Linked DNA regions of Homo sapiens: region 2 is linked to region 1. A link means that fine-mapping ties the variant in region 1 to the expression of a gene that starts in the linked region. Tissue or cell type: whole blood. Region 1 holds a variant in brackets; the other region holds the start of a gene. All regions are shown on one strand. Distances are between the middles of the regions.

Region 1 (2,768 bases):
TTTTTTTTCCTGTACTGTGAATAATAAACTTCTTTTTCTCTGGCGTAGATGTCTCCTGTCTTCCTCCAGCATTCACAAACCAGGAACGGCTAGCTTTTTGACCTGTAAGTAGCATAAAATCAAATCACAGACCTGACAGTTTGACTCAGCAAGACTTTAACAGAATGCATATAGTCCTTCAAGAACCAGCATTCACACACGTGATCCACATACATATTATACATTTTATTTAACAAACATGTGTTCCAGGTATTATTCTAAGAGTTTATAGATATAAACTCATTCTATCCATGAAGTAAGTACTATTAAAACTCCCTGTTTTATAGATGGGGAAGAAGATGCACAAAGATGTTAAGTAACTTGCCCAAATCAGGCAGTTTTTAAGTGTCAGAGCCCCATTATTCAAACAGAAACAAATACAAACAGTGGGCACAATGGCTTATGCCTGTAATCCCAGCACTTTGGGAGGCCGAGGTGGGCAGATCACCTGAGGTGAGGAGTTCGAGACCAGCCTGGCCAACATGGTGAAACCCCATCTCTAGTAAAAATACAAAAATTAGGCCGGGTGTGGTGGCTCACACCTGTAATCCCAGCACTTTGGGAAGTCGAGGCAGGCGGATCATGAGGTCATGAGATCGAGACCATCCTGGCTAACACGGTGAAACCCGGTCTCTACTAAAAATACAAAAAAAATTAGCGGGTGTGGTGGCACACGCCTGTAGTCCCAGCTACTCGGGAGGCTGAGGCAGGAGAATCGCTTGAACCCGGGAGGCGGAGGTTGCAGTGAGCTGAGATCGCGCCACTGCACTCCAGGCTGGGCCATAGAGCGAGACTCCGTCTCAAAAAAAAAAAAAAAAAAAAAATTAGCCGGGCATGGTGGCATGTGCCTGTAATCCCAGCTACTCAGGAGGCTGAAGCACGAGAATTGCTTGAACCTGGGAGGCGGAGGTTGCAGTGAGCCGAGATCAT[G/A]CCACTGCACTCCAGCCTGGGCAACAGAGCGAGACTCCATCTCAACAACAACAACAACAAAGAAATACAAACAACATTGCTACAGAGTCTATTGACCCACTGTATCATGCTGACTGTGTTAAGGGCTAGGAATGGATGGGGCAAAGAGAAGATAAGGGAAATGATCAAACAGTTTAATTCCTCAAAACAGTTGTTGAGATAATCAATTTAAAGAGCTTTTTATTCCTAACATATTACAGTTTTTATTGCTTTATTATTCTGGTCATATTGATACACACTTTGATTCAGTGTGCTATACTTGGCTTGTTAGGATTTGATCGAGAAAATTTGTGTCTATATTCAGACTATGTATTCAAAAACGGTTTGTCTGCAAAAAACCTACCCATGAAAGTTTATAGCAGTTTCTTTATTTATAATAGCCAAATTGGCAGCAACCAAGATGTCCTACCCTAGGTGAATAGATAAATAAACTGTGGTACATCCATACAATGAAATATTTTTGGCGCTAAAAAGAAATGAACTAGCAAGCCATGATAAGATGCAGGGGGACAACTTAAATGGATGTTGCTAAGTGAAAGAGACCAATCTGAAAAGGCTACATACTGTATGATTCTAACTACATGACATTATGAAAAAGGCAAAACTATGGAGACAATAAAAAGAACAGAGGTTGGTGGTAGGGAGGGATGAATAGGTGAAAGATACAGGATTTTTAAGATAGCAAAACTAAGCCAGACATGGTGGCTCACATCTGTAATCCCAACACTTTAGTAGCTGAGGCAGGTGGATTGCTTGAGCTGAGAAGTTGGAGACCAGCCCAGGGAAACAGGGCGAAACCTCCTCTCTACAAAAAATATAAAAATTAGCCGGGCATGGCAGCATGCACCTGTAGTCCCAGCTACTTGGGAGGCTGAGGTGGGAGGATTGCTTGAGCCCAGGAGATCAAGGCTGCAGTGAGCTGTGATTGAGCCACAGCACTTGAGAGACAGAGGGAGACGCTGTCTCACATATACACACACACAAAGTGAAACTATTCTGTATGATACTATAATAACAGATACATCATTATACACTTGTTAAAACCCATAGAATGTACAACACCAAGCGAGAACCATACTGTAAACTATGGACTTTGGGTGATAAAGATGTTTCAATGTAGGTTCATCAGTTGCAACAAATGTACCACTTGGGTGCAGATGTTGATAATGGGGGAGGCTGTGCATGTGTGGGGGCAAGGAGTAAGTGGGGAATTTCTGTACCTTCTCAGTTTTACTGTAAAGCTAAAACTGCTTTTAAAAAGTCTTTAAAAATAGTCTATCTTTGAAACTTGCAGCGTACTTTAAAATGTAAAATATTGGTAATGGTGTGATTGTGTATAATAAGTTTTTGTTAACTTCACTCTTTACCTGTGCAAGTCCCCCATGCCCTTGGCCTTTCCTTTCTGTCTGTTACCTCCTCCTTTCCTAGGAAGTGTAAATGGCACGGTCCCCACTTGGGCTCTCTTCCTTTACTCCATTGTCCTTTTCTTAAACCTTCGTAAGCCAGGTTCAATCCAGCTGTCTGCCTCCTCCATGGCTATATCAGGGCTGCAGAGCTTTGCCGGAGAAAAACCACGATGGTGAAGATGACGCCCTGTATACAACTCACAGTCTCCCACCTGGACTCATCCTTCAGTGTTTCTTCCTTCCAATTATTTCTGTTTCTCAAATCAGAGCTTTCTACTTCAAACGTGTATAAGATTTTTTGGGGTATATTTTTGTTTTTTGAGACAGAGTTTCGTTCTTGTTGCCCAGGCTGGA
Region 2 (2,500 bases), 260 kb before region 1:
TGTGCTGTGGTGGCTTGCTGCACCTATCAACCCATCACCTAAGTATTAAGTCCCTCTGCCCCCTTCTATCCCCTGCCCCCAGGCCCCAATGTGTGTTGTTCCCCTCCCTGTGTACATGTGTTCTCATAGAACATTATTTTTTGATTCATTTGTCAAGTTGGCCTGAGCTGGTTTGATTAGGAGGTGAAATGTTTATATAGCTGTCCTTGGTCTTCCTGTCCATCAATCTTTTCCAGTTTGATCGCAGTAAATTCATTTCTGTAAAACTTAATATCTCCCATAAAGGATTCAGATTTCATAATAACAGATTACTAAAAATGCAAATGTTTAGTTGTTACTGTCTTTGGATACTTTCTGATAAAGTTGAGCTTTATCGTTAATCAGCTTTTCCACTGGGACATGGCAGATATGGCACAGCCAAGCCCTCCCGGAGCATAGTCTAATCATGGCAAGTTTTAACTATTGATGTAAGAGTTTTAACTATTGATTTTGCTTTCATCAAAAGCAAAGCCATTCACACAGTATTTAACAAAAACCCTCGGGCTCTGCTAGGTTCTTGTTTACTGTTAAAACAGTTTAAAGGCAGGGTCTTGATCACTTAAAATACTCTTAGAAGGGAAAGTAACATTTTAAAGGATTAACAGTGGAAAAAGAATATCCCTGTTCCTCTTCCTTCCCCCAAGTCCTCAACATGTGAAAAATAGAGTTGATAAGTAAGGAGATTTAAGGCAGAACCCGAGGCCTACGGAGCAGTTACCTTCTACGGCAATTTCAAGGGTGGATGGTGCGAGCGCCGCTGGGGCAGCTGGCGTTCTGGTTCTTACTCCGTGGGAAAATGGCCCTGAGCCCGACTGGCTTGAGGCTTAGACAGGTGACCCCGCGAAGCGGGTGGGCAGGCGCGGCCGAGGGGCGGGAGGCGGGCAGCCTCCGTGATTGGCCGGCGGAGGGGGCGGTGTAGCGACCCGAGGAGGGAAGAGGACTCCAAGCGCCATGGCCGCTGCCGCCCGAGCCCGGGTCGCGTACTTGCTGAGGCAACTGCAACGCGCAGCGTGAGTGCGGGGCCGGCGGGCGGGCAGGGGACCGCAGGGTGCCCACGCAGCCCCCTGGGTGTGACCCGCTCAGATCCTGCGCAGTCTTCTCCGCTTACTTTCAAGAATTCGGAGAATTTGGATACCGCCCTGGGCTCCCACCGCGCGCCAGGCGGAACAGCGAGGTCACAGAGTGCGCGATGCAGCCTCTCAGGGCGCAGTGAGGCAGCCTTTACTCTGCTTGTCTACCGTTAAAGAAACTGAGGCCCAGAGAGGACCTGGTCCCACATCGTAGCAGGCAGTGGAGAGCTTGGCACGGTGGCCAAGACAAATTCATGTATGCAATTGACACATATTTATTGGGCATATATTATGTGCCAAAAACTATTCTAGGTTCTGGGGATACAAAGATGAAAGGCTCTGGAGCAGTTTGAGGTCTAGTGGGGAATGGGATGAGGGGACGAGGCTAAAACCGGCTATAGCAGACTGGGTGTAGAAGGGAAGGATGGATGTGAGAAGTCGCAGAGTCACACTTCCTGGCATGTACAGGGAGTCAGGGTATTCAATGTCATGACACGCCTGCCTCCCAGCAGAAATGTGAGGTACATCCTGGTCACCTGATAAATACTTGCTGACTGTGCAAGTGCACAAGTCTGCCTGGGAAACATGGAAAAGTTTGAGCTCACAGGTGCAGATCAGTAGGAGGAAAGGCGAGGGACTGGCGAGGAACGTCAGGCAGAGAGAAGAGCAACACCAGCGATGGAGATGCAGTCCCAGGACACAAAAGACAAGTAGACCTACCTTTATAAGAGGAGGTAAAGATGGAGAAGACGGCTGATAAAAGACCATGAATAAGAATATAGCTAATACGATGAGCCCGGCAGTGTCTTACACACTTTGAATGGACTATCAGTATAATAGTAACTCTAATCCTTTCACTGACCCTATGACACACGGTATTGTCATCCTCATAGATACGGAAATAAAGGCATGGAGAAGAATTTGTCCAGTGTCACACAGCTAAGCAAATGGCACAGTCATAATTTGAACCCAGATACTCTGGCTTCACAGTCCTTGTTCTTAGGCCTGTAGTAAGGAATTTGAATTGTGTGCTGTAGATAATGGAAAGCCATTGAATAATATTTGTCACCATTAAACACTGATACCTTAAAATGTCCCATGACAAAAGAATTACATGGCCAAATAAGTTTGAGAAGCTCCTTACTGCTGTATTGCCCTCTTGGAGAATCAAAATATACATTAGACATGCAGGGCTCCAAGAAGCTACAAAAAATACTAAAGCTGTGTTCAAATTTTTGGTTGTAAACCTGTGTCATCATAGAACTCTTTGTCACACAACACCATTTATATCCCATGGAATCAGTGTCACACACAGAATATGTTTTTGGAATGGTTGCATGAAAAGGGAGTATGGCATAATCAGAACTGTGTTAGCACATTCTGGTGGAAAT

Evidence for each region. PIP is the estimated chance that this variant, and not a neighbour inherited with it, causes the effect.
Region 2: it holds the start of ADHFE1, and the variant in region 1 is fine-mapped to the expression of ADHFE1 in whole blood (TOPMed, PIP above 0.99).

The regions. Positions count from the first base shown.
Region 1 is chr8:66,690,657-66,693,424 of GRCh38, forward strand. It overlaps C8orf44-SGK3 (C8orf44-SGK3 readthrough), which reads left to right. Exons shown (of 19, transcript NM_001204173.2): 3 at 49-104. Among named protein-coding and RNA genes, the nearest start is that of SGK3, 21 kb to the right of the region's middle. The variant G/A (reference allele first, on the strand shown) is at 970.
Region 2 is chr8:66,431,527-66,434,026 of GRCh38, forward strand. ADHFE1 (alcohol dehydrogenase iron containing 1) reads left to right here and starts at 978. Exons shown (of 14, transcript NM_144650.3): 1 at 978-1,049. The coding sequence starts at 991. It overlaps LOC102724687 (a long non-coding RNA gene), which reads right to left and starts at 840. Exons shown (of 5, transcript XR_929013.3): 1 at 758-840. RefSeq lists a silencer at 812-1,231.